Homo sapiens: one gene and its partners. The protein of the gene in region 1 interacts with the protein of each later gene in a pairwise test. Each region holds a gene or a part of one and is shown in the gene's direction. Other genes may lie near its edges.

Evidence for each region.
Region 2: the proteins of GADD45G (region 1) and FAM156A interact in binary tests that used the Homo sapiens proteins (3 or more experiments, as listed by UniProt).
Region 3: the proteins of GADD45G (region 1) and AFAP1L1 interact in binary tests that used the Homo sapiens proteins (3 or more experiments, as listed by UniProt).
Region 4: the proteins of GADD45G (region 1) and CEP57L1 interact in binary tests that used the Homo sapiens proteins (3 or more experiments, as listed by UniProt).

What each region holds. Positions count from the first base shown.
Region 1 is NC_000009.12:89,600,156-89,607,216, forward strand, and holds GADD45G (growth arrest and DNA damage-inducible protein GADD45 gamma), read left to right. Parts: upstream 1-4,856; 5' UTR 4,857-4,966; coding exon 4,967-5,019; intron 5,020-5,276; coding exon 5,277-5,378; intron 5,379-5,511; coding exon 5,512-5,725; intron 5,726-5,813; coding exon 5,814-5,924; 3' UTR 5,925-6,400; downstream 6,401-7,061. UniProt on the Homo sapiens protein: Involved in the regulation of growth and apoptosis. Mediates activation of stress-responsive MTK1/MEKK4 MAPKKK.
Region 2 is NC_000023.11:52,948,404-52,955,567, reverse strand, and holds part of FAM156A (protein FAM156A/FAM156B), read left to right. Parts: intron 1-321; 5' UTR 322-414; intron 415-6,862; 5' UTR 6,863-6,979; coding exon 6,980-7,164.
Region 3 is NC_000005.10:149,266,905-149,274,964, forward strand, and holds the start of AFAP1L1 (actin filament-associated protein 1-like 1), read left to right. Parts: upstream 1-4,954; 5' UTR 4,955-5,064; coding exon 5,065-5,080; intron 5,081-8,060. UniProt on the Homo sapiens protein: May be involved in podosome and invadosome formation.
Region 4 is NC_000006.12:109,098,372-109,105,535, forward strand, and holds part of CEP57L1 (centrosomal protein CEP57L1), read left to right. Parts: intron 1-1,820; exon of another isoform or gene 1,821-1,915; intron 1,916-7,164. UniProt on the Homo sapiens protein: Centrosomal protein which may be required for microtubule attachment to centrosomes.

The sequences.
Region 1 (7,061 bases):
ACACAAATGAACAAGTCAGATCTGAATTTGTAAGTCTTTCGGGACACTGTCCACCAAACTAAACCCATCTGTGGGCCAAATGGCAACCAGGAGCAATCTTATAAGACCCCAATAAGGTTCATGAGGGGTAAAGGGCACAATTTTTATTTCCTAGGTTGGGAAACTAAGGTTCAGAAGACTTGGGCATGTAGTCAAGCTGGGAAGACTGCACATCTGTGGCTTCTCAGGGGTTTTCAGCTACAGTGCAGGCTGGTGTCTGTCACTACCTAGGACTGTGACAGGTGCCATGAATCATTTCTTACTGTCGATAGAGAAGGGAACAAATGCATAAATAATGTATCCTTCCCCCTCAATTACTTTGAAGGATTTCCCTGGGCTAATGTTAACCTCTTTCATGCTACATAAGTGCTCACCCAAGAATAACTGCTCCTTCCAGAAAGTCTTTGCATAAGGATGACTGACCAGAAATGTCCAGCTTTTGCTAGATGTGTGTGTGGGAGGTGTCCTCCTTTCTCAGCTTCCTGCTTCTTGTCTCAGTTGTCCTCTGAAGCCTCCCCATGTGCAGATTCATGCTTCACCCTGGGTAAGGAGGAGGGCATGGTGGTGGTGAGAGCCAATGCAATGGTGTCCTTCACATGCTGGAAGGCATCTGAGATGCACCTGTTGGGTTTTAAGTAATAGCTTTTATGTGTCCTGCATGAAAACCTGGCTTCCTTTTGAGTTAATGTACTATTGTCACTGAGTTGCTGCTGCCCCCTATCATTCAAGAGCTTTTTTGGACCGAAGAAAACCCAACAGAGGACCCCCGAGGAGACTTGTTCTGGCCCGAGAAGGGGCTGGACGAGGGAGAATAGTGAGGGCAACATGAAACCTTTTGGAAACGGGCCAGCCCAGAGTGCTCCAAGAGCCCTGTGCTGACATAGGACACTGTCCTGCACAAGCTGAGACACAAATGATGCTCAACCTTTTTGGCTTCATCTTTAGGAACTTGGCCCCTTTATTTTGTGCTTCAAACTTCAGTTTCTTGATTGTAAGCGCAAATGTCTGCAGGTGACAGGAGGGTGATGTAAATGAACAAAGCAGCCAGGTGTCCTCAGCTGGGGTCTGGTGGGGATTGAGGTGAATGGGAGAGCAGTGCCCAATGCGGGATCCCAGTGCCCCCGACCCCTGCTGAAGGTTACCAAGGTGGGGAGGGGACTCTAGGCACATCATGGCCAAATCTACCCATTTTCCAAGAGAAGCTAGAAATCCAGATGTTTATATGAATGCAGCTAACTTTGAAAAGTGGCAGTGAATTTGACTTTGCCTAAGACGCCTCATAGGCCAAAGAAATCCCACGTGCAGTCTGCAAGGGGCTGGTGCGTAGCCAGCTTTGCATCCCACAGCCTCTGGCTGACTGGTCGTGGATTCTGGCACATTGTTTGGGTAGGATAAGGGCATACACCTGCTATTTAATAACAATGTTGTGCACTCTCCACACATAAGTAACTTGTGAAAATACAACAAAGAATATCTCATAAAGCTTACTGCTTACTTAAAGCTCATTTCCTTCTGTACCCAAATGAAAGACATCTGCCCATCAATGACCTAGTCAAGCCATGGAAGAATGAGAAGCACATTTTAGAGAATGTGTTAATAAAAACAGTTCAACTATAAACATTTCCAAAAAGGTTTTAGAATAGAGCATCTCTGAGGATATCCCTTTAAGTAAGTCACCATCACCTGCATTATTGAGATTTAGGGGAAGGTTTAGGGGTGCAGTCACAGGAAGCTCAGGACAACATCTCAGCCACCTGTGACCTGAAGCACAGAGCAGGCCAAGTCCCTTGCTGCATGCAATTTGGGAGAGCTGTGGCCACAAAGCCGTGTAGTGGGATATTCTGGATCCTCAAACTTCTAGTGGGCATTGCCCACTCCTCAACACAGGGGCATCCCAGGCCCAGAAGCTTCAGCATGTGTCTGAACTGAAGGGTGGTGGTGGGTCTGCTGGAAGGCCACCTTTGCCTGCAGACAAAATTGTTCTTCCCAATTGAGATGGGGGCTTTGGGGCCATTGGGACTGACATAACAAAGCAAAGTGAGGCTGTATCATATGTCAAAAAGGCAGTTTCCTGAAATTGAATACTTTAAAAATGTGAGCAGAGTAGAACAGCCCCAGGGGTCGTCAATCATCTCTTCTGGTCCAGGCTAGCTCAGGAGGGACTGGAAATGCACCCACCCCCAACTCGAAGCCGGGAGTGTTCATTAGTGGCCTTCCTCTCGGAGGAGGGGCTGAGGCTTCAGGCCTAGCCTTTGTTTTCTCTGGCCTGGCATGTAGGCAGATTTTTAGCGTCATAAATTGGAGAGGTGGGTGCTAGCATGTTAAGTAAATCTTATTTCCAGCATGTCCTGGGGACCTGGGACTAATACATTTTAAGAAATGTTTAATAGTAGGCCGGGTGCGGTTGCTCATGCCTGTAATCCCAGCACTTTGGGAGGCCGAGGTGGGTGGATCACGAGGTCAGGAGTTTGAGACCAGCCTGGCCAACATGGTGAAACTCTGTTTCTACTAAAAATACAAAAATTAGCCCGGCGTGGTGGCGCACCTGTAGTCCCAGCTACTCGGGAGGCTGAAGCAGAAGGATCGCTTGAACCCGGGAGGCGGAGGTTGCAGTGAGCCGAGATTGTGCCACCGCACTCCAGCCTGGGCAACCGAGCGAGACTCCGTCTCAAAAAAGAAAAGAAAAGAAAAGAAAAGTTTAATAGTTTTAAAAGAGTAATACCTATATTCCAATCACTTAAAATTAACATATTTTATCCAATCAAGGCATATCATCATTTTATACATCAAGAAAGAAAAGAAACTAGCGAACAAACGGGGCATAATGCCGCCTGGCTCCGCTTCCCCCTCCCCTCTCCCCCCGTCCTTAGGAGACACCTCTGGAGTTCAGAAATGCTAGGAGAGCAAGCTCTTCATTCTTAGAATCCAGGAAGGGCCGGGCTTTTGCAGCTCTCCTCTGCCAGGAAGCCGCTGGGGGGCGCAAGACGCCAGCTTCTCACCTTGGCAGAAGTGCCTGCCTGCAAGCGCAGAATGGAAACTTCCCCATAACAAATTCAGAAGTACCTTGTACATTCACCACCCACCTGAAGAAAGCCTGAATGAAAGGAACAAAGCCACGGCGTTGTTTACTTTCCCATTATCGCCCCAGTCTTGCGGCAGGGCCCGGGTTTCCATCCAATCCACCCGGCCCGCCACTGTCCTGGCCAGTCTCCAAGGCTTCACCCAAAAAAAGGAAGCAATGAGGTGTCCCCCAGCGCGCCTTTTCACGTAGCACAGAAGGTGCTCAGTGGGTGAATCCTCTGAAAGTGCCAGCGTGTATGGTCAAACGGCAGCAACCTCTAGCCTATTAAACTCTCCCAAGATCTCTTCCAGACTTATTCCATTGCCGGAAAAAAGGCTTTTTACATATGCGCATTTAAGTAATTAAGATATTTCAACATGGTATAAGACGTAGGGGCTCTTACTCCATCAGTACTGGATGGGAATTTCCTTTTGCCCTCTACTCCCCAGGGTAACTGCAGTCCCACCTGAATGCGTTTTGCAGCCCTTACTCGGGTTCTATTTATGCGCAGCTTGGACAGGGCTCACTGGGCCCGGCCGGGCAGCTCCGTGGCCGTCCCTCTCCACCGCCCTTCCCCCGCGCCAGGCCAATGCAAGGGTGTGTGTGTTGGGGGGAGGGGAGGACAAAAGGGGTTCAGGATCTTTTTAACCTGCCTGCAGATGGCGCCCCGGGAAAGATTCCGAGCTGCATTACCTAAGCTCCAGGGGCTGCAGCCGCGGGGTCCCGGCCACAGGGCGTCCAGCCGCGAAGACTGCACAGCAGCTCTCCGTCCTTCCCAACTCGCGCGGCTGTTCGGCACCCGTGCGAGGAACGGATGGAAGGGAATTACTTGTAGCAGGGCCAGTACTGGGGGCGTGCACTCAGGGACCACGGAGTGGCACTCAGCCTCGACCCCACGCGCCAGGCAGCCCGGCGACCCCCACGCGCGGCGGGGTCCTGCCCACCCCACCCGGCGGCAGGTGGACAGTGTTGCTATGAAGAGAAAGCCTCGATTGTCCCTACAGCAAACCGCCACACGCCAGACCTCTGCTATTGTGCGCCCTCCATAGAAATGCAAACGAGCGGCGTGCGCCGGCCGCAATCTGCTCGTCCCCGCCCGCCCCCGTCTCCCGCGCCCCGCCGCGCTCGGCCAAGGGCGGGGAGGTGGGGTGGGATCTTCCAGAGACGGCTCAATGTACACATTGAGTATGCCTGGCAGGCATCACCAGCGCGCTCGGGACGCTAGTGGTCAGCTGCAGGGGGCTGTGCCCACTGCCTTTTGCAAGCCTCTAACTGGCGCTACCTGTTTTTACCTTAATTTCTGGCTCCAATGCAACAGTCTCATAGACTTCAAATTAAAGAAAAGAAACAAATAGAAAGGTAGCAATACAAAATGCAAAAAAAAATCCCTTTGCTTCTATAAAGGTGCTTTTCGCAAATTGCAGCATCATATAAGCAAACAAGGTTTTTGTGGGTTGGGTTTTTTCTTTTTTTTTTTTTTTTACTTTTTCCTTTTAAGGACTTCAAAAAAAAAAAAAAGCCAGGCGAGATGAAATCTGCAGGCTCCAGTCTGCCTGGTAACACCCCAACAAAAGCGGCAGATTTGAGGCATTGTCATCCCCCGCACCCCTCCCCACGTGGCCTTCTGGCACGAGCCGCTGGCTCGCCGCCTCATTTACATCAGAAAGCGGGTGCCGGCCAATAGGCGCGCAGCCTCGCGCCAGCTGGCGGCGCCGCACCCACCAGCCTATATAAGGGCGCGCAGCGTAGTAGGGGCGCACTCGCTGGTGGTGGGCGCGCCGTGCTGAGCTCTGGCTGTCAGTGTGTTCGCCCGCGTCCCCTCCGCGCTCTCCGCTTGTGGATAACTAGCTGCTGGTTGATCGCACTATGACTCTGGAAGAAGTCCGCGGCCAGGACACAGTTCCGGAAAGCACAGCCAGGTGGGTTTCAGGGCGCTGAGAAAGCCGCTGGTCGGTCGGCGACCGTCAGGGTTTTCCAGGGTGGGAATCCGCGGGGTAGGAGGGGAGCGCGGGGGTCCGGGCGCCAGATCCCGGTTGGAGAGCCGGGGTGCAGGCGCTGAGCCGGGATTGGAGTGTGGTTGGAGTTGGGGAGCCAAGGGTGTGTGCCGGTGGCCGGGGCTGGGGTCTCCGCCGCGCCCTCCGGCCGGCTCCCGCTCACTGCGCTGGCTCCTCCGCAGGATGCAGGGTGCCGGGAAAGCGCTGCATGAGTTGCTGCTGTCGGCGCAGCGTCAGGGCTGCCTCACTGCCGGCGTCTACGAGTCAGCCAAAGTCTTGAACGTGTAAGTGTAGACGCGGCCCAGGCTGGGAGACAGGGGCGGGGGTGAATGGCGAGGAGACTGGCGGATGGGAGGGGTGGCGGCGGGAGAACTCGGCTAGCCGGTTCTGACCTAGGTCCCCGCCTTGCCCTCGCAGGGACCCCGACAATGTGACCTTCTGTGTGCTGGCTGCGGGTGAGGAGGACGAGGGCGACATCGCGCTGCAGATCCATTTTACGCTGATCCAGGCTTTCTGCTGCGAGAACGACATCGACATAGTGCGCGTGGGCGATGTGCAGCGGCTGGCGGCTATCGTGGGCGCCGGCGAGGAGGCGGGTGCGCCGGGCGACCTGCACTGCATCCTCATTTCGGTGAGTACAGTCCCGTCCTGTCCCCGCCCCAGTGTCGTTCCCGCCTCGGCCCGCGGCCAGCCAGGCTGACCCTGCTCTCTCTCCGCAGAACCCCAACGAGGACGCCTGGAAGGATCCCGCCTTGGAGAAGCTCAGCCTGTTTTGCGAGGAGAGCCGCAGCGTTAACGACTGGGTGCCCAGCATCACCCTCCCCGAGTGACAGCCCGGCGGGGACCTTGGTCTGATCGACGTGGTGACGCCCCGGGGCGCCTAGAGCGCGGCTGGCTCTGTGGAGGGGCCCTCCGAGGGTGCCCGAGTGCGGCGTGGAGACTGGCAGGCGGGGGGGGCGCCTGGAGAGCGAGGAGGCGCGGCCTCCCGAGGAGGGGCCCGGTGGCGGCAGGGCCAGGCTGGTCCGAGCTGAGGACTCTGCAAGTGTCTGGAGCGGCTGCTCGCCCAGGAAGGCCTAGGCTAGGACGTTGGCCTCAGGGCCAGGAAGGACAGACTGGCCGGGCAGGCGTGACTCAGCAGCCTGCGCTCGGCAGGAAGGAGCGGCGCCCTGGACTTGGTACAGTTGCAGGAGCGTGAAGGACTTAGCCGACTGCGCTGCTTTTTCAAAACGGATCCGGGCAATGCTTCGTTTTCTAAAGGATGCTGCTGTTGAAGCTTTGAATTTTACAATAAACTTTTTGAAACAAACTTATGCTCTTTATTGAGGGTAGGGGATCTTTGTGTCGGGGGAGGTGGCGTGCAGGGTTTCAGAGGATTGCTGGAACTCCGTGGAACTGATGGCACCTGTTCCGTCTTCCTGTCGGGCAAGAATGACAGGCTCCTCCCCTCTGGCAGAGGGAGGGCATGCTGCCCAGTGCTAGGGTAGAACTTGAGCCTGGCTCCTACTTTTCTCCTTTTAGGAAGATTTTAAACTTGCAAAACAGGAGCATACTTGAGATAAGACAGTGCAGCAGCTGAAGTCTTGCCTTCCAAGGCGATAACAGTGACCTGTGCCTCCCCTCCCCCTCCTCGGCCCTCCTCCCCCTCCCTCCTACAGCTGCTTATCTGAACAGCTTGCAGGAGGCCTCAGGCTTTCCTGCACAATGAGCATTGCCTTCTGCAGGCCCTGCCCTTTGTGGTCCCTGAGGATGGTGGCAGACTGCTCCTGCTCTTGGGGACTTTTTCCTCTTAAATGCTCTGACACAAAGCAATGCTACAAAGGTACTAATACCAAATATGACATTGATGACTGCATTTAAGTATGAGTCATTACTTTGTCATGGCTGTGATAGAACTTGGAAGATCTGAGAAAAAATTGGAAGGCAGCATCTATATAAATAGGCATGAGCAATTCTGAGGGGGCCTGGCA
Region 2 (7,164 bases), on another chromosome or scaffold:
CAGGAGAATTGCTTTAAACCAGGAGACGGAGGTTGCAGTGAGCTGAGATCATGCCACTGCACTCCAGCCTGGGCGACACAGTGAGACTGTCTCAAAAAAAAAAAAAAAAGTCCATATTTAATTGGGATTATTAAATGAAATCTGTATCTTTAAACTGAAATAAATGCATTTTATTATCTCATATTATTGTGGAAGATTGAAAAAAGCATCACATGGGACTGGCTTAATTTTGAAAAGAAACACAAAGCTCTTCCTGGCGCTCATCTGCAGGGTGTCGTCTGGATTCACTTGCTTAGCTGTTCTCTTTCTCCTTCCGCACAGGAGAATTGAAGCGAATGAGAGTGGGGAGTGTGAGAGGTGCGTTTGGTGCAGCATTTCTGGCATGGGAACAGAACTGGCCAGGAGGAAGTGACGGTAAGGATTCGCAGCATTGCACCCGATCCCCGGGCAGCTGTGGACATGCGGGTCAGCCCCTAGGACTCTGCTGTCTGAACTCTTCCCTCAGGATTACTTTCTCGCTTAGGTATCAGGGGAGGCTGAACACCCAGAGAGGCAATGCCACCAGGGGTGTGTTCATCTGCAGTCAGGGAGACCTGGGAGGGAATTCTGTCCCTGAGTGGTTGTGTGATCTGAGGGAAGTTACTTGACCTCTCCATGCAGGAATTTCTGCCTTTGCAACGTGGGAAAATATGGATTCTGCAGGGTTGACTTGACATTCTCAGTGAGATGTTTATCACGGGCCCCACATCCTTCTTGTTTCATTTGATAGATATTTGTGAATGTCCACTGGGCTCAAGGCTCTGTGATGGGTGAACAAGACAAAGTCCCTGGCCTCTGTCAGCTCCTGGGCTAGTGGGTTGACAGAGAAATAACCATCTGTTGACAGCTGAGTGGGATTGGGGCTGGGACAGGGGAAATACAGGGCGTTTTAGGAGCTTGGAGAAGGCTTCCTGGGAGAAGTGCTATCTCAGCTGAGTCATGCAGGGTGAATGAGAGGTGAAAGTCTTGCCAAGGGCCATGGCAGTCCCAAACTACAGGCACCCATCACTATACCCGGCTAATTTTTATTTTTAGTAGAGATGGGGTTTCACCCCGGTGGCCAGGCTGCTCTCGAACTGCTGACCTCAAGTGATCCACCCGCCTCAGCCTCCCGAAGCAGGGATTACAGGCGTGAGCCACTGTGCCCAGCGTGATTGTAAATGTTAATCATGTCCACAAATACCTTCCCAGCAACAACTAGAGTAGCATTTGACCAAAAGGGACCAGGCACCAAGCCTGGCCGAGTTGACCGATAAAACCATCACAGTGAGGGATTGGTACCCAGAGACATCACCTCTCATGCTGAAGGTCTGACCGGTAAACTGTCTGGGTTCCCTGTCTCCAGTAGTCCTTCTCTCTCTTCGGTAGCTGCATGACATGATGCAGGAAACTTGAGGCTGTGGTGTTTCATGCAGAGATTTTTGATACAAGGTCTTTTACCTGGGGGCAAGTGCCTGTTGAAGAAATGACATTGGTGAGATGATGAAGGAAGGGAAGTCACATGTATTGCTGCAGCTGCTCCCCTCCGCACACACAACGGACTTCTCTAGGCCTCACTGTCCTTAATGCCTCTGTCAGGGATCATGAGCAACTCCATGGGTGTGGTTTGAGAATCTCTGGATGAACCTACACATAGGACGGTAAAATGTTTCATTTCACAAAATTGCTGGAGGGAGAAAGAGAGAAAAGAGAGCGATGACTATGCAGGCCGGTTGTCAGTTGATGTCTCCAGAATCTTCCTATTTCTTTTTTTTCTTTTTCTTTTTTTTTTTTTTTTTTTTTTTTTTTTTGAGACAGAGTCTTGCTCCGTTGCCCAGACTGGAGTGCAGTGGTGCAATCTCGGCTTACTGCAACCTCCGCCTCCTGGGTTCAAGTGATTCTCCTGCCTCAACCTCTCTATTACCTGGGATTACAGGTGCCCACCACCACACCCAGCTAATTTTTTTGTATTTTCCGTAGAGATGGCGTTTCGCCATGTTGGCCAGGCTGGTCTCAAACCCCTGACCTCAGGTGATCTGCCTGCCTCGGCCTTCCAAAGTGCTGGGATTGCAGGCATGAGCCACCACACCCGGCTCACATTTCTTCTCATAAAAGTGTTTCTGGCTGGGAACAGTGGCTCACGCCTATAATCCCAGCACTCTGGGAGGCTGAGGCATGCAGATCATGTGGAGCTCAGGAGTTCCAGACCAGCCTAGGCAACATGGCAAAACCCCGTCTCTACAAAAAATACAAAAATTAGCCGGGCATGGTGGCTCACGCCTGTAGTGCAAGCTGCTCAGGCGTCTGAGACTGGAGGATCCCTTGAGCCCAGGAAGCAGAGGTTTCAATGAGCCGAGGTTTTGCCACTGCACACCAGACTAGGTAACAGAGCGAGTCCCTGCCTCAAACAAACAAACAAAACAGCAAAAGAAACGTGGGGGGTGGGGGTCGTAAGGTCTTTTCTCTCTCTGAGAATTGGCTTTCTACATGTAGAAATAGATCCTGAGAGAGTCCTTGTGACACATGAGAATTGGCTGGGAGATAATTGGGTTAAGATCATTTTCCAAACGTTTCACACATTAACTGTTTGTGTCAGATAGTGGTGGCCCAAAGGATGTCAGGGAACTAACTCGTAGGAAAGATAGATTGCAATTTCTGAAAAGTTAAGAACTCTTTCTGGGATGTGTGTGTGTGTGTGTTTATATATGTTTGTGTTCAGTACATATTCAAACTGTTCCTGTTACGGTTCTGTCTTTCTTGCCCCAGTGTGGGCTGATAGCCACGATTTGGTGAATAAACATTCAGAGGACCAGTATCCTCTGAAGAAAACTAGTGAATTCTTGGTTTCCACGTTTGTCAAAAGAATAGAGCCTGGGAGGCTGATCTAAAGTTTCCATTTAGCATTTAATGTCAATTTTTGGTTGCACTCATCCAAGATGTATTTATCAAAACAGTACAGAGAGATACCCTTATCGCAAAATATGCCGTTGGGTTTTTCCACTTAACCTACAGCAAGATTGACTTTTTTCCCTCAGGAGTACAGTTCTGTGAGCTTTGACACGGGCATACATTCTTGTCACCACCACCACAGTCGGGATCCAGAACAGTCCCATCACCGCAGGACACTCCCTGGAACTGCCCCATTGCGGTTACCCCTTCTTCATCCATCATCCCTGGTGTAAAGTGATCTGTTTCCTTCCCTCTAGTTTTGTCTTGGGGAGAGTGTTATGTCAATGACACCATACAGTTTGTGGCCTTGTGAGGCGGGCTTCCTTCTTTTGGCCCGATGAACATCTCGGATGAGTGTCAGATGCCTCTGTCACAGGCTGTTGTTTTTTCATGAAGGCAGTTTCACGGTGTGGAAGACCACAGGTGTTCAGCCATCCTTCTACTGAATGACATTTTCCTCTGTCCAGTGTGGGGCAGTTTCGCATCGAGCTGCTTTTACAATTCAGTGCGGGCTTTTTTGTGAACCTAAGTTTTCATTTCTCTAGGGTAGATACCCAGGAGTGGGATGGCTGGGTCCTATGGTAAACATCTGTTTGACTTACAAGAAACTGCCAAACTGCTTCTCAAAGTTGCTGTGCTATTTCGCCCTCCCAGCTGCAAAGTGTGAGAGTTCCAGTCACCCAACATGTTCTCGCTTGGCCTTGCCAGTCTCCATGGTGTTAATTTGCATTCCCCTAATGCTGAATGATGTTAAATATGGTTTCTTGCGCTCCCATTCAAGTCTTTCCCCCATTTTCTAGTTGGGGTGTTGATTTTCTTATTGTGGAGTTTTGAAAACGCGCCATGTGTTTTGGATATAAGATCTGTCAGGTTGGTGATTCTCAAACATTTCCTCCTAGTGGTGCAGCTTTGATTTTCATTCTCTGAACACACTGGCTCTTACACAGCCAAAGTTGTGTTGTATTGTATTGTGTTGTATTGTGTTGTATTGTATTGTATTGTATCGTATCGTATCGTATATTATCGTATAGTATCGTATCGTATCCTATTCTATTCTATCTATCCTATTCTATTCTGTTCTATTCTGTTCTATTTATTTATTTAGAGACAGGGGCTCGCTATGTCGCCCAGACTGGAGGGCAGTGGCTCGATCTCGGCTCACTGCAGCCTCTGCCTCCTGGGTCGAGCAATTCTCCTGCCTCAGCCTCCCCAGTAGCTGGGGACTACAGGTATGTCCCACCATGCCAGGTAATTTTTGTATTTTTTGGTAGAGACAGGGTTTCACCATGTTGGCCAGGCTGGTCTCGAACAACTGAACTCTAGTGATCTGCCCACCTTGGCCTCCCGAAGTGTTGGGATTACAGGCAGGAGCCACCACGCCCGGCCAGAGCCAGAGTTTTAAATTTTGCCAAACTCCTATCCATCCATCTTTCCTTTCCATGGATCATGCATCTCAGGTCATGTCCTAGCCTCCCCTCACAAAGATGTCCTCCTACGGTTTCTACCAAAAGTCATAGTATTGAACTTTGGCGTGTAGGTCTCTGAACCCTTTTTCCTTAATTGCGTGTAAAGGTTGAGGTTGAGGTGCATCTTTTTGCGTAAGGATAGGCCACCTCATGTATTGAAAAGCTTATCCCTTCTCCATTGGATTCCCTCTCACACCCATGTCAAAACTCACTGGACACATTTCTATGGATGGATTCATGGACTCTATTTTATTCCATGGATCTACTCGTCTACCCCTGTAAGCCAGCAATCTCGATTATTACAGCTTTAGAGCAAATCTGAAAATCTGATAATATCATCTCTCTAAAATACCTTCTGCTTTTTGAAACATCAGATATTCCACGTGAATTGTAGAATCTGCTTGTTTATGCATGCAAATGTCCCTCAAGGATTCTGATTGGCAGGCACTGCATTCATTCTACAGATCAAGTTGGGGACAATGGACTGTTAACTTTTTTGGGTCTTTAAATATGGGAACACATTGTTTCTCTCCATTTAACTAAATCTTCTTTGATTTTTTCATTACCGTTTAATAGTTTTGGGCATACAGACCCCGTCCACGTATTTTAGCTTTATACATAACCATTGCATTGTGTTTGTAGCTTTTGTAAAACAGTATTATTTCTTAAATTTAGGTTTCCAGTTACGCATAGGATTGTTTTCCGTGTGTTGAGTTTCTCTCCTGTATTGCTGCTAAGCTCTCATTAATGAGCACTAAGCTCTTATTAGCTCTGAGAGTCTGGGGGAGATACACTGGTTGTTTCATGTAGACGATCACAGGACCCATGAAAAGGAGTACTTTGGTTTCTTGCTTTCTCCGGTGTGTGCCGTGATTCTTCTGGCATTATAGCACTGACTGGGCCTCAGCGTGACGTTGAATAGCTGTGGTGAGAGTGGACGTCCTTGCCTGGTTCGCATCCTTAGGCAGAAAGCATCCAGTCGTTGACCATTAAGTGGCTTGTTAGTTGTAGGTTTGACTGTACACGCCCTTTTTCAGGTTGAGGAAGTTGTCTTGTGTTCCTAGTGTGCTAGAGCTTTTATATCACCAGTGGACTTTGAATCTTATCAAAGGGTTTTTCTGCATAGCTTGATGTGATCCTGTCATTTTTGTTCTTCATCTGATCTCTCAATCTGTGGGTTACATTGATTGATTTTCAGGTGTGGGAAGAACAACCCTTGCATTCCCGCTATAAAACCCACTTGATCGTGGCTTATTATTCTTCTCACATATTGCTCAATTCAAACTGCAAGGTTTTGTTGAATACTTTGGTGCCTGTACTAGGAAAGAATACTGGTCTGTCCTTTTCTTGGTATCCCTGTGGTGCTGGCCTCATAAAATCAGTGGGGCGCATTCCCTCTGCTTTGTTTCCTAGAAGAAGTTGTGTAAGTTGGTGATATTTCTTCATTAAACGTTTGGTAGACTTGGCCAGTGAAACTGTCTTGGCCCAGAGATCTTTTTGCAAATGTGTTTGCCTGTGAATTCAACTTCTTTAAAACATATAGGACTGTGCACACAGTTCAGTGTTTGAAATCCATCCTGTGTGAGTTTCCGTAGCTTGTGGTTTTCAAGTATGTGCTACATTTCCTCTGACCTGTGGAATGTGAATCTGTAGAGTTGCGTGTATTCTTACCATATTGACCCTTTTATGTTTTCTGGGTCTGGAGTGAAATCTCTTCTTGCATTCCTGATATTGGTAACTTGTTTCTTTGCCCTCTTTTTTCCCAGCCAGTCCTGCCACGGGTGTATCAATTTCATTGATCACTTCAAAGAACCAGCTTTTTTTTTTTTTTTTTTCCTGGATTAATTGAATTCATCTATGTGTTTTTCTGTTTGAAGTCTCCTGGGGGTTTATGCTTCTGTTGTTTAGCAAAATAAATTCTTATCCACACTAGGAATTTGGAAACGATTTCCATAGGCATGAGCAGCCTTTTCGACTAGATGCAAACCCAGTGGTCAGGAAGGCGAACATACAAAAGGGTGTGTCCCCATGGTGCAAACGCTTACAGTTGAGTAAAAGTCTCCCTTGTGAGTGGATGAAAATGAACGCTCATGGGCAGAGCACCTGTGAGTCACACATTGATTATTCTACAAATGATGCTTGGGAAGGGGTTGGAAAATGTCAGCAGGGAATTGACATCGTCGAACTGCATTGCATCCTTTTGCACCCCGTGTCACGTGGATGCATTAATTGGTATCATTTGTAAATCCTTTATTAGATGGCATTAATATTCTAAGCTGGTGAGATGTATGATCTCACGTCATCCTCAGAAGAAGCCTAGGACAGGGTCTCTCTATAATCCCCATTCTACACACAGGAAGTGGAGGGACAGAGAGGTTGAGTAAGATGAATAATTCTGTGTTTTCTTGTCTTATCACCTTGCGTTGCAGTCTGGGTTCTGCCCGCACACATTCCTCGCCACCTTCTTGGTGTCTGAGAACCTCCAGCTTCACCTCCTTTTCTGGACCCGAGGGCCTGGCGGAGCTTCCAGCTGGGACCAGACCTCCATGGATCCACTCCAGAAACGGAATCCAGCATCGCCTTCCAAATCTTCCCCGATGACAGCTGCAGAGACTTCCCAGGAAGGTCCAGCGCCCTCTCAGCCTTCGTACTCAGAACAGCCGATGATGGGCCTCAGTAACCTGAGCCCCGGTCCTGGCCCCAGCCAGGCCGTGCCTCTCCCAGAGGGGCT
Region 3 (8,060 bases), on another chromosome or scaffold:
CTGAAAAAGCTGAAGATTGGCCACTCCATTTCCAAGCTGACTGGTGACTGGCCCCTCAGACGGAGCAAGAGGGCTCCGCTTTGCTGTGGCCCCTCCACTTGCATGGCCTGCTTCCTGCACACCCTTCCCTGCCCGGCCCTGTAGGTGCTTCAGGGCACGAGCCTCGCTTCAGGAGCCTAAGATCTCGCTTAAGGAGAAGAATCCAAAGGGATGGAGTAAGCTTCATGCAGCATTTCAGCATAAAACAAAAGCTCCTTTTCCTTCAGACACAACCACTGGGCTTGGTTTTAACAACTGTGGAAGCTGAGCCCTGTTGCCTCCATGCAAGTAGGAGCCCCGTGCCCTGGAGCAGAAACCTGAAGGCGCATGGGAAGAAGGAGTTTTCATCCATCCATGAAACTCTTTCTCTTTCTCCCAGAAACAGCCACTGAGATCTCTATCTGCTTTCCGGGGCCCAGGGTGGGCCAGCAGACGTGTGTCATTTCCCTGGATAGGGGCTATAATGGCAACATTGTGCTAAGTGGAACAAGAGAGGTTTTCATTGCAGCCAGCATCAGGCAGACACCCGATCAGAGGGCTCTGGGGATCACCCCACACAAAGGAGCATGGGAGAGGGGCCCTGAGCCAAGGAGAAGCCACACATCCACAGCAGCACACAGGGGCTGGGCAGCACAGCAGCATGTCTCCAGAAGGCCTGGTCACAAGTTCATTTCCCCCTGCAAATAAATAAGCAAATACGACAATCCCAGAGGACAAATGGGACCCCCAGGACACATGCATTAATAGAAGCCAAAACTGGCAGGCCTTACACACCCTTGAGTATGTTTTCACTGACTCATTCCACAAATACTATTACCATTTACTAGGTGTTTGGGCACTGTGCTAGATTCTAAGGATCTAGCAATGAGTAAGACAGCGCCCGCTCTCACAGCATTTGCAGTCTGGTGGGGGACAGGGAAGCATAGGTAAAGAAGCACATAAGAAATTATGTACTATTGACCCAGTGGAAGAACTGAGATTCACACGGCAATGAAGTTGACTTAGGAACCCAGATCTGAGCACCCATCTGTTGTTTTTCTTACTCTTCCTGAAGTCTCCTGAGATCACTGCAGGCTCAGTGAAGAAGGCACCCCAAACACCATAATAAGAAATCTGGACTCTCCGCTGAGGGCCCGGGGAGCCATCACATATTTTTAAGGGGGTAGTTGCACGGTCTGATTGGGATCATGGAATGGTCGCTCTGTTGGCCATGGTGGAAACAGTCCCTAGAGGTAAGGTGACAGGTTAGGAGGCTAGAGTATATTTCTCTCCCTGGAACAAATAGTCCTGAGCCTCCAAATTTTTCTTTCCCAGGGTTTCCCAGTTCCACCTGATAAGCGAAGAATGAGACTAGGGAGTATCATTTGTTTTCACAAGACAGGGAGCAGGAGGGAGTTGAAAGCTTTCTTCCTGGTATTGTTCACTAAGGCTAAATTTGATACCTTCTTACAGAGCTGGAGCTCCCCACATAGCATTCTTTAGACAAAATCCAGGCAAACCTGGAAAACTTGGAAGTCAGCAAAGTAGGTAGTGAAAAGGAAGATATGAGGCAGATTCTAAAAATCCTTGCCAGAGAGTTGCACTCAAAATGAAATGGAAAGGGGAAGAGAAAAGCAGGTATCACAACCTTCATTCCTATCCTTGCCCTGATGCTTATCCCCCAATAACCCACGATCCAGCCAACCTGAACTGCTTCACAGACACGTCCTGCTGCCTTTGAGCTCAATGTCTTTGCTCTCACTGCTCTTTGCCCATAATGTTATCTCCTCATTACACATTCTCAGTTGCCTGCCTTCCAAATATCTGTCATCCATTACAGCCTCCATGATTAGTAAAAAAGTCTTACTTTGTCTGATGGACTCCAAGACCACTTTATTTCTCCTCTGGTACTTTTCATACAATAATTTATATTATATTATTTTATACATGTCTGTCTCCTCTACTAGATTGTAGATTCCCTGAGGGTGAGAATCATTCCTACTTAGCATTTCTTCTCTCAATAGAAACTTGCACAGAGTGCAATCAATATTGCCTAAGCGAATTTATGGGCAGTGTGGATTGTTAGTTTTTATGAGGAATATAGAACTCACTAAAGGAAACATACAGAAAAAAAAAAAAGTTATTCCTTGTCCAAACCCGCAAATAACTTTTTCATCCATCTCAGTTACTCTGACAGCAACCAAGCTGTAGACAACTAGTCAACATTGCCACCTAGTGGACATTATGGGTAATTATTTAAACCAGAACCCCTATACCTTGCCAGCAACAATTTTTTGTTGATTCTCAGAACTGTGCACAGACTGTGTTCTCCCATTTCTATATCCTTCCCAGACCACAGCTCAGTTAATTCCACTCCATAAATTATTCCATTTTCCTTAGCCTTTTTTACTTTTTCGTTCCAATTCTCTGAATATATCTCCAAAGTCCTTGAAAGTTTCTGAAAGTTCTCTAAACATCTCTACAGGCTCATGCCTGTCATCCTAGCACTTTGGGAGGCCGAGGCCGGAGGAGCATTTGATCTCAGAAGTTCGAGACCAGCTTGGGCAACATAGTGAAACCTTGTCTCTATCTTAAATATTTTTTTAAACATTATAAAAATAAAAATATTTACAAAAGCCTCCGTCTGTTTTTGCAATAGTAACATTTCATACTGTTTTTCTAAATTATTTCAAATGAAATATTATGTTTTTAGAAGAATTAGTGAGCTAGCCTGAGAACTTAAAATACAATTTATGGGAGGCCGGGCGCGGTGGCTCACGCCTGTAATCCCAGCACTTTGGGAGGCTGAGGCGGGTGGATCACGAGGTCAGGAGATCGAGGCCATCCTGGCCAACATGGTAAAACCCCGTCTCTACTAAAATACAAAAAATAATAATAATAATAATTAAAAAATAAAATAAAATACAATTTATGGCCTTGTTTCCAAGTGTTCAGAGTTCAAACAATAAACTTTTAAAACTTAATCCACTGGTAAATTGTTGGTTGGCTGCTTTAGAATTGAAACTGACCTTTTCAAATTGGAAAAGGGGACAGCAACAAAAAGGAACTCAGAAAATAATAATGGCTCATATTTTATAGCTGTTTGTGGTTTATAAAGTGGGTTTGTATTATTTCATTTGCCCTACCAACAGTCCTGTGAGGACTTACAGTATGAGGCTTCCCATAGCACAGATGAGCAAGAAAACCTCATTGACGAAAAGTTATTATACTATGTAGTATTTAGATTGGAGCAAAAGTAATAGCGTTTTTTGCCATTACTTTCAGTGGCAAAAACCACTATTACTTTTGCACCAAACTAACAGAACAAGAGCCATGCACAAGTTTTCATACACTGTTCACAACATCACATTTGGTCTGAGTGCTCACACACACACACACTAAATTACTGATGCAATATTTTAAGAAAATGTTAATTTTAATTTGCCCATAAAAGCAATAGAGAAAATATTCCCGGCCAGGCTAGGTGGCTGGCGCCTGTAATCCCAGCACTTTGGGAGGCCGAGGCAGGTGGATCACCTGAGGTCAGGAGTTCGAGACCAGCCTGGCCAACATGGCGAAACGTCGTCTCTACTAAAAATACAAAAATTTGCCCGGAGTGATGGTGGGCGCCTGTAATTCCAGCTACTCAGGAGGCTGAGGCAGGAGAATTGCTTGAACCCGGGAGGCAGAGGTTGCAGTGAGCCGAGATCGCGCCACTGCACTCCAGCCTCGGCGACAAAGGGAGACTTTTCAAGAAAAAAAAAAAAGAAGAAAAGAAAATATTCCCAGTCCAGGAAAGTACAGGAGGGTCTTTCCCAGGCCTTTTGTTGCCTCCATACCTCTGTGGTAGCTGTTCCCTGTTCCAGAATGTTCTAAGTAGGGAACAGTGGTCAGCTCAAAGCTGAAAACCATGGCCTGGCCCATGGTGGGAGGAGCAGTGTCTAGGAGAACAATTGGTCCTGGACTTTATGAAGGGTCTTAAAGTCAGACATTTGATATTGTGTATAAATGAGTGAGACCTATTTTCACAGGGATATACTAATAAGGTGAAGAAGTTGACATTCTTCATACAGCTTTAAACTTAGATCCCATTACTGTTCCACACTGGTCATAGCAATATTTTCTACAATCTTGCGAAAAGTACACTTATATTGCACTGTATTTTGTATGCTAAAAGTATTCATTTCCACATTTTTTATCACCCTGTTCTGCATGTTTTCACGTGTTACTCATTTTTCTATTCTTTTTCTGAATTCTCCCAGATCCTCGTTATGTTTTCACGTTTTAGTACACAAGGAACCTCAAAAGTTGAAAGTGTCCCAAGCCCTTGCCCACCTTTCAGCAAGCCTCTCTTTCTCCCTTTCCCAGGTGCTTTTCTTTCTGAAGATCTTTGTTATTATTTAACTCCTCTTTCGCAACACCACTGACATTGCACCGGCATCGCCGCGGGCCCACTGTCTGGCTTAGAAGGTGCTCAAGAAAGACCCGCGGCGAATGGAGAAGACAAGCCCAAAGCCAGGAAATGGGTGGCGGCTGCAGGGAAGGGGGTTTTGATTCCCTAGGATAAAAACGCGCTCCAACAGTCTCCGCATTCCGGCATGGAGCCGGCTGAGGGGTGCGGTGGTAAGACCCCATCGCTAGCGGAGTGCAAGCAAAGCCGCACACCTCCTGGGTCCGGGCTGGGGCAGGCCGCGCGGGCGCGGGAACGAACGCGTGCGGACGGGGAAAAGGGTCCTCCAAGCCCAAGTGGGAGCGCCGCGGAGGGCGAGCGAGCGGCAGGGCGCGGCGGGGCGTGTGCGGCACCACGGGACAGCGGGCTGCGGCCCAGGGGGCGAGGCGTGCTCGGGTCTATTCCGGGAGCGGCTCTGAGGGGCGGGCGCGGGCGCGGGCGGGGCGGGGGCTGCCGGCGAGCATCCTGTCTGGGGGAGGGGACCGCAGAGAGCGCCGGCCGCTGGGCTGGCCTGAGAGCGCAGCGCGCCGGCCGCTACCAGCCGCGCCGGAGCCCCTGCGCCCTGCGGCCCGCTCCCCGGGGACCGGGCCGGCGCCATGGACCGAGGCCAGGGTAAGAGGGGCCGCGACGCCCGCACTTGTTGCGGCGCCGGGCGGGAAAGGGAGACTGGACGATCTGAAGCCGGAGAGGAGGAGGGAGAGAGGCGGGCGGTGGGGCGGGGGCTGAGGAACGCTCGGAGGGGACTGGGAGACGCGGCGCTTATGCAAAGGTGCCTTCGGCTGCCGGGACAACCCGGTGCGTGTCAACGCCCGTGTCCTGGGGCCAACTCGCCTCTCGTGTGTGAAATCAGAGTTTTCATAGGCTAACGATTTGTAACTTCATAAAAGATCCCCCTCTAGTTTCCGGAGGACAGCGAGCTCCTCCCACCTCATTCCACTCTAAAGGGGAAAACAAGGTGTACAGGTTCAACTCCCGAAACACCCGCTGTGGGCAGCCCCTAGGGAGAAGCTCTAGGGGACCGAAGTTTGCAGCTGCCTAGGGCATTGCGAGAAGGAGGAGCGCCGTGAGCAGGCGCGCGTGTGCATGCATGTGTGCGCCAGGGAGGGAGGAGGCGGGGGTGGTTCTATCCCGCACCAGCTGTGTCCTCGGCCCAGCCCTTCTCTCTGGACCAGCGACAAAGTTGGACTAGATGGTCTCCAAGGCACCTTGCCGACCCTTTTCCAGTGTATTTGGTAGACGTTTCACAGAAGTGGAGGGGACTTACTGAAATTGAGATTGACATAAGCCGAGAGGGCAGCATTCGTAGGGGGCTAGCGCACATTTTTTTCTGTTTGTTTTGTTTTGTTTGAGACGGAGTTTCGCTCTTGTTGCCCAGGCTGGAGTGAAGTGGCGCGATCTTGGCTCACTGCAACCTCCGCCTCCCGGGTTCAAGCGATTCTCCTACCTCAGCCTCCCGAATAGCTGGGATTAGAGGCATGCGCCACCACACCCGGCTAATTTTTGTATTTTTAACAGAGACGGGGTTTCACCATATTGGCCAGGCTGGTCTGGAGCTCCTGACCTCAGGTGATCAGCCGGCCCCGGCCTCTCAAAGTGCTGGGATTACGGGCGTGAGCCACCGCGCCCGGCAGCGCACATTTTAAGTAAAGGTCTAGACATGGCCTTTGGCAATGGCCAGATGGGCATGTGTGTGTCTGTAAAGAAGTGGCCTGCTTGGACATGTGAACAGTGTCAGAGGCTGGGAATCAGAACCCCAGGGTTTCAGTCTGCACCTCTGGGATCCAAAGAGATCACAGGTGTGACGGCACTAGATAAACTAGTGAGTGCTGTGCCAACAGGCGAAGTGTTGTTGTTGTTGCTGTTATTAATAATGGAAAATTCATTCCCCTCCCCACGATAATCTCACACCTCTCCCCCATCTGCCTGTTTGCTGTGCTGAGCCCCCGAAGGGAGGAAAAAAAGAAGGGAACAGGGGCATGGGAGCAATTAGCAGGCACTGGGGCAGGGATGAGCCGGGAGCAGGTGTGGGGTAACCTCCCTTACTCCTGTTAAACGGAAAGTCAGGCTTGGCGAGCTCAGAGGGCCAGAGGGGACTCCTGGCTTCCAGTTCAACCTCCTCACTTGCCCCTCCCCAACAGAGAATACTGCATTCACCTTCTCCTTCAGGGACTGGGAAGGGCAGGCAGGAAAGAGAGTGGGCTTCTGTTTGGTTCTTTAGCAACTGAGGCCTAGATTTGTAAAGCAGTTCTCACCTGTTAACTGATTTCTAGGCAAGTGTGAAGAGTGTACATCAGGGAGGAAAAACAGAGAGAAGAGGCACCTCTCACACCCCTCAGTCCTGCTGTTCCCACCTCCTGCATAATGCGTCTAAAGCAAATACCACCATCCCCCCTCCCCTTCACACTCCTAGTCGCCCGCCACCTCCCCAACCTCTCCACCACCCCCACTCCCCACCAGTTTTTAAATACCAACCTGTCTGATCTCCAGTACAAAAATCCATACCTAGGCCTACCCAGGCCTGTGGAAAGTGCACTGTGTCATCCTAAGACAGAGTGACAATAGTTCACTTCACTTTAAATGCTTGGTAACCAACAACCTCCACGTCAGAAGGCTGCCTCCAGAGCACTCTTCCTAGGAAGTCAGACTTCCCAGGAATCCCTTGGTGCTGAGAGCCTAGGAGGGCTCTGACCTGCTCTCTCCCTGCAGGCTTTTCTAGCCTGCTATCTTTCTTTACACCTCTTGTCACAACTTTATAGACATAGTTATCTGACTCTTTAGTGTCGGCCTCCCTACCCAGAAGTAAGCTTCAGGAAGGCAAGGAGTGGATCTATTGTGATCAATCTGCTGACACTGCACCTGGCACATAGTGCACAGTGAGGAGCTCCAACAGTGGTTTAATTAGTAAAATACAACACACTTTATAGTGCACCTCGAATTGATTACTTGTACAGCAATACTTAGTAGTATTCTCTTTTTAAAAATCAACATTGCTGTACAAGTAATCAGTTTGAGAATAGTACTAAGTATACTCAGATCAGTTCTTGGTGACTTACAAAGGCCATCTCAAGTAAAGTGGTCTTGTGGCTGGGCACACAAGATCAGTTTAACTGTCTGGCTCCTCAGTTCTCTACTCTGATAAATAATTGCAAACACAACCGTTTATGAATCAGAATGAAAAATCTGCATGCATTTTTAAGATAAAACATGAGACTTCAAGTATTCCAGGCTGGGCACAGTGGCTCACGCCCATAACCCCAACACTTTGGGAGGCCAAGGTGGGTGGATCACTTGAGGTCAGGAGTTCGAGACCAGCCTGCCCAACATGGTGAAACCACATCTCTACTAAAAATACAAAAATGAGCTGGGTGTGGTGGCGGGCGCCTGTAATCCCAGCTACTCGAGAGGCTGCGACAGGAGAGGAGGCATCGCTTGAACCTGGGAGGTGGAGGTTGCAGTGAGCCGAGATCGAGCCATTGCACTCCAGCCTGGGCGACACAGCAAGATTCTGTCTCAAAAAAAAAAAAAAAAAAGTATTCCAGCAGACCTTTCTTGTACCCCTGTTCCCAGGCAGGTGTGCACTCTCTTCTGTCAT
Region 4 (7,164 bases), on another chromosome or scaffold:
CCTAACCTCAAGTGATCCACCCACCTCAGCCTTGCAAAGTGCTGGATTACAGGTGTGAGCCACCGTGCCCGGCCTCTTTCTTTTTTCCTGAGACAGAATCTGACTATGTCACCCAGGCTGGAGTATAGTCATAGCTCACTGCATCCTTGAACTCCTGGGCTCAAGTAATCCTCCCACCTCAGTCTCCCAGGTAGTTGGGACTACAGGCACGTGCCAACAAGCCCAGCTAATTTTGTATTTTTTCCTTTTTTTTTTTAACTGAAATTACATAACTGAGATAATTTTTGTCTTTTTGTAGAGACAGGATCTCACTGTGTTGCCCAGGCTGGTCTTGAACTCCTCAAGTGATTGCCTCAAGTGATCCTCCTGCCTCAGCCTCCCAAAGTGCTGAGATTAGAGGCATAACCCACTGCAACTGGCCTGAAGTGAATATTTCTTTTAAATTGTGTTGAGCATAGACCATAGGGAAGCAAGGGTGGAAGCAGAGAGACTGGTTAGGAAACTAAAGTAATAATCCAGGTGACAGAATCTGGATACATTTTGATAGTATAGCCAACAGACTTTGCTGACAGATTGTGTGAGAGTAAGAGTCAAAAATGGCTTCAAAGTTTCTAACCTGAGTAACTAGAATGGAGGAAGTGCCATTTACTATTATGGGAAAATCTGCAGATTTGTGAATGGGAGAGAGAGGAAAGGTTGGTATTTTAGCTTGGCCACGTTAAGTTTGAGATGCCTCTAAGAAATTCACATTGAGATGTGGAGGTGGAGGAGGCAGTTGAATAAATGAGTCCAGAAGTGAGGAGAAAGATCTGGCAATAGATATAATTTTGGATTTTATAGTAGTGTTTTGATAGGAGTTGTTGATATCACCAAAAGTGATATTCTATGGAGTTTGGGTGGATTTGGAGTTCTCTGCAAAGGTGACTGAAGGAGCAGCCAGTGAGCAGAGAAAAACCCACTGTTCAGTAGGTGTTCTAGAAGCAAAATGAAGAAAGTAATTAAGGAGGAAGGAAAAATAAGTTATGTTAAATGTTGCTGTAGGTCAAATGAGATGAGGATTCATAATTGACCAGTACATTTAGCAACATGGAGGTCATTGGGATCTTGATAAGAAACTTTTGGTGGAGTAAAGGGTACAAAAGCCAGATGGGTACTTTTATTTATTTATTTATTTTTATTTATTTATTTATTTTTGAGAAGGAGTTTTTGCTCTTGTTGCCCAGGCTGGAGTGCAGTGGCGCTATCTCGGCTTATTGCAAGCTCCGCCTCCCAGGTTCAAGTGATTCTCCTGCCTCAGCCTCCTGAGTAGCTGGGACTACAGACACCCGCCACCATGCCCGGCTAATTTTTGTATTTTTAGTAGAGACAGGGTTTCACCATGTTGGGCAGGATGGTCTCGATCTCCTGACCTCGTGATCCACCCGCCTCGGCCTCCCAAAGTGCTGGGATTACAGGCGTGAGCCACCGTGCCCAACAATGGGTACTTTTATTTAGTAGAGTATGGGAGACAGCGAGTATGGATGCAGCACTCTTTTACTGTGTTCTTTGTCCAGATTGTTCTAGCCTGTCTTTAACTCCTCTTCTTGCAGGTCTTTGCTCAAATAATCATTTTCTCAGAGGTGTCCCTGATCTAATTAAATACTCTTCTTGTAAATAGACCTATTGCACCGTAAACCTTGAGTTGCTCTTATGTTACCAATTAGTTTTGCAGTTGTGCCATGATTTGATTAAAGTGTGTTTATTTCAGTAGAGCTTAAGCACACAAGAGGAACTACTGTGCTTGTTTTTGTTGATCATCTTATCTCTACCTCTGAGTACAGTGCCTGGTACCTAGTACAAACTTAATAAATGTGTGACGCAAGAATAAAGGAATGAATGAATGGAAGAATGATATAATGCCACAGAACTTTCAAAGGTATGGCATATTTATCTATCATTTACAAAAACACAAAGTAATTAATGGATGGACGAGGGTACATTATAATAAAAACATTTTAGAAAGTTCGTCCTAAAAAAAACAAAGCCGGGCACAGTGGCTTATGCCTATAATCCTAGCACTTTGGGAGGCTGAGGTGGGCCGATCACTTGAGGTCAGGAGTTTGAGACCAGCTCGGCCAAGATGGTGAAACCCCGTCTCTACTGAAAATACAAAAATTAGCCAGGCGTGGTGGTGGGCGCCTGTAATTCCAGCTACTTGGGAGGCTGAGGCAGGAGAATCGCTTGAACCCAGGAGGCAGAGGTTGCAGTGAGCTGAGATCGTTCCATTGCACTCTAGCCTGAGTGACAGAGTGAGATTGTCTCAAAAAAAAAAAAAAAAAAAAGAAGAAAGAAAGAAAGTTTACAGAATCTGTAGCCTAGGAAATGTAATTACTGGTCACATAAAATTTTATTTAATGTGATACAGTTTCACATTGTTTAATTCAGAGTTCTTATATTCATAATGTCTGCTTTTTGGCTGGGCATGGTGGCTCACACCTGTAATCCCAGCACTTTGGGAGGCTGAGGCAGGTGGATCACCTGAGGTCAGAAGTTCGAGACCATCCTGGCCAACATGGTGAAAGTCCATCTCTACTAAAAGTACAAAAATTAGCCAGGCATCATGGCACACGCCTCTAGTCCCAACTACTCAGGAGGCTGAGGCAGGAGAATCGCCTGAGCCTGGGAGGCAGAGGTTGCAGTGAGCCAAGATCGCACCACTGCACTCCAGTCTGGGCGACAGAGTATGACTCTGTCTTAGGAAAAAAACAAAACAAAACAGTCTGCCTTTTTTGCTGCAACATATCAATAGATGTTATGGAATTTAGAAGAACTTCTTTAGATCAGTAAATTTTCACAGTTACATTTTAGAAGAGTAATTAATTAGGGAACAGATATTGAGAGGTTTTGCTAACTTTGGTCATGGACCATGGAATCATGCAGTATGTTGCCTTTTAGACTGGCTCCTTTACTTAGCAATGTGCATTTATAGTTATTTTATGTCTTTATATGTATGGCTTGGGAGCTCATTTGTTTTTATCACTGAAAAATAATCCATTGTATGGATATATCACAGTTTGCTTATTCACCTTTTGAAGGACATCTTAGTTGCTTCCAGTTTTTATCAATTATGAATAAAGTGTCCTAAAAATTTATGTGCAGGCTTTTTCTGGGCAAAAAATTTTTAACTCATCTAGGAATATGATTGCTGGATCTCAGGTAACCCTATGTTTAGCTTTGTAAGAAACTCACAGCTGTTTTTCTTTTTCTTTTTTCTTTTTTTTTTTTTTTGAGACGGAGTCTCACTCTTTCGCACAGGCTGGACTGCAGTGGCGCCATCTCGGCTCACTGCAAACTCCGCTGCCGGGTTCACGCCATTCTCCTGCCTCAGCCTCCTGAGTAGCTGGGATTACAGGCGCCCGCCACCGCGCCCGGCTAATGTTTTGTATTTTTAGTAGAGACGGGGTTTCACCGTGTTAGCCAAGATGGTCTCGATCTCCTGATCTCGTGATCCGCCCGCCTCGGCCTCCCAAAGTGCTGGGATTATAGGCGTGAGCCACCGCGCCCAGCCATACAGCTGTTTTTCAAAGCAGCAGTACCATTTTCTATTTCCCACCAATGAATGAGAGTTCCTGTTGCGCCCCACCTTTGCCAGGATTTGGTGGTATCAGTGTTTTGGACTTTAGCTGTTCTAATAGGTATGTAATGGTATCTCATTATTGTTTTAATTGGTGATTCCCCAATGACATATGTTGAGCATCTTTTCATACGCCTATTTGCTGCCTGTGTATCATGTTTGGTGAGGTGTCTTTTCAGATCTTTTGTCCATTTTTAAATTATTATTACTGTTGAGTGTTTTTGTTTTTTAGAGGCAGGGTCTCCCTAGGTCACCCAGGTTGGAGTGCAGTGTTGCTTTCATAGATCACTGTAACCTCAAACCCCTTGGCTCAAGCAGTCCTGCCTCAGCCTCCGAAGTAGCTAGAACTACAGGCATGCACCTCCACGCTCAGCTTACTATTGAGTTTTAAGAGTGCTTTGTATATTTTGGACACACAAGTCCTATATCAGACCTGCATTTTGTAAATATTTTCTCCAAGTCTGTGGCTTGTCTGTTCATTCTTTAATAGTGTCTTTTGCAAAGCAGAAATTTTTAATTTTAGTGAAGTCCAGCTTTCATGTATCATGCTTTTCGTGTTGTAGCTAAAAAGTCATTGCCATACCCAGGGTCATGTAGATTTTCTCCTGTCTTCCAGAACTTTTACAGCTTTGTGTTTTGCATATAGGTTTATGATCCATTTTTTAGTTTTTTTTTTGTAAAAGGTATAAGGTCTGTGCCTAGATTTATGTTTTTATTAAAAAGTTTCTGCTGGATCTGAAATTATTATTTTGATCAATAATATTAAAAGGTGAAAAACTTTTTTTTAAAGACCATTATACTGAATCTGTACAACTATATTGGTGCCATTCTTCAAAACTGTTCCTTGAGAGAGAGACCTGAAGTCAGCCTAAAGATGAGGCCAGGGAGAACTTTATCTGGAATGTATCAGGAAACCGGACTAACAGTTCCATTTTAGTTATCTGTTGTCAGCATGTGCAGTTGGCTGAGTGCTGTAAGTGAAAATTGTTAGGAAGACTTTCTACAATTAAGAATATTATTCTCCAATTGAATTACCTTGTTACTTGTCTACATTGCTGGTTTTTGTTTTTGTTTTTTTGCTACTTTTTTGCCTAGTCTTACAAGGTTGCAAAAATCAACCTGTGATTTTTCCACAATAGTTTGACCCTTCTCTACAATGAAACACTGAAGCCATGTAAACTTAAAATATCTCTTTCTATGATAACTGACTTCAACTTAAGTTTTTAAAGGAAATTATACTAATTATTTACTGTATAGTAGCATAAGCAGTTTTGCCTCTAAATGCTTCCTTAGTTTTTCTTTTGGCTTGTTGAAAAATGTCTTGTCAACCAAGTACTATATGTGTACTTTTATGTGTGGGGTATATGTGTATTGCCCAAATGAATCATAAAGGCTCTTAATTTGAATCTGTATATTTTATTTTTAAGTTTTCCTTAACAAGGTCGATTTGAATTCCTTAACAAGATTGATTTGAATGATATTCTTTTCAGCCCTTCAAAAACATATTTTCTGAAACACTGTCATACATACTATTCTCAGAATACCATGCCCCTTTTTTCTATGTTATTTTGGTTCCATCTTTCAGGAATAAATGAGTAAACCACTTAAATCAAGTTTACTCTTCAGTATTTTCTCCAGTTTTTCTGTTTTTGGTGTCTCCAAATTTACTATAGTATGCTTTGAATGACTAAATCTCTAGTATTTCTGACATATATTAATGGATAGATTTTTAAAAACCAATAATTGTTGAATCTATTTTCATTTTGCTCTTCTTGAAAGATTTGTGAGCGAGCTCTAGCAATATACGCAACATACAATATGAATTTTATAAACCAGTCTCACTACTGATTTTATTCTTATTTTTCTACTTATTTTCCTTATCCACATTTTACATGAATATATACATATATAGGGGTAAGATATTAAAATTATATGTCATTTTTAAAAGCATTACATATTTCAAACAAAAAATAAGAGTAACAAAATAAATACCCTTTTAAACTACCCCTTGGAATGAACAAATGTTAACATTTTACCTAGTTTGCTTTAGTTTTTGTTTTTTTTTTTTTCAATGAAATGAAATATCACATAGGTTGTGAAAGTGCTCTTGGCACAGTCATATATTGTCTTTGTCTTTTAAAAAAATGTTACATAGAAGATATCTTACTATCTGTAACTTACTTTCTGTTTTACTCAACAATATATTTTCAGAGCTTATCTGTGTTGCTAAATGTAGATCTTGTTTTCAAATTTTAGCTGGTGTATAGTGTTTCATTGTATGAATATGATACAACTTATTTATCCAGTCCCTATTAATGTATATTTATTTAAAAAAAAAATTTTTTTCTGTTGCAATCAGTGCAGCAGTGAACATCATTATACATATGTCCAGATATGTGCCATTTTCTCTAGGGTTCACTCATAAATTCGGAGAAGTGGAATTGCTGAGTTATAGGATATACACAGGATCACATTTTTCAAGTTATGTTTTGTTTTACCAGTTTACACTCCCACTGGCAGTTCATGGGAATTTTCATTTCCCCACATCCTTGACAAAACTTAATATTGATAGGCGTGTTTTTTTGTTTGTTTTTTGTTTGTTTGTTTTGTTTTGTGAGACAGAATCCCACTCTGTTGCCCAGACCAGAGTGCAGTGGCACAATCACAGCCCACTGCAAGCCTCAACCTCCCGGGCTCAAACGATCCTCCCACCTCTGCCCTACAAGTAGCTGGGAACACATGTGTGTGCCACCACACCCAGCTAATTAAAAAATTTTTTTTTTGTAGAGACAGGGTCTCACAGTATTGCCCAGGCTGATCTTGAACTCCTGGGCTCAAGAAGTCCTCCCACCTCAGCCTCCCAAAGTGCTAGGATTACAGACATGAGCCACTGCACTGGGTCCTGATAGGCTTCTTTTAAAATTTTTTTCAATCTAATGGGTGTAAAATAATTTCTGTATTGTTTAAATTTGCATTTTCCTGATCAATGAAGTAGAACGTTTTTGTCCTTTTAGCTATTCGTGTTTTCTTGTCTTTTAACTTCCATTGTACCTTTTGTTCCTTTGTTAATTGACCTTTGTGTTTTTCTTAATAATTTATAGGATAGAACTTGTTTCTGTATTTCAGATACTAATCTTTTATGTTATATATGTTTCTTTTTTAAAGATATCATCAATGATGTTTTTTGTTATACAGACATTTTAATTTTTATATAGTTTTATCATTTTTTCTTTTTTATTTGTAAATTGTCTTGTTTTAAGAAATCTCTTCTTACCCAAAGTCTGAAACGTACTCTATATTTTCTTCTAAAACAAAGGTTTGTTGTTCACGTATAGATGTTCAGTCTAGCTAGAATTTATTTTTGTGTTTGGCATGGAGTAGAGATATATGTTTATATTTTACCGTGTGGATAGCACTGTATAGTGAATATTGGCATAGTGAATATTGAATAGCCAATCCTTTCTCCATGTAAATGCCCTCTTTTTCATATACCAAATTCCCACATATGTAAAAGTTTATTTACTCTCTTTTCTTTTGTATCAGTCCCTTTT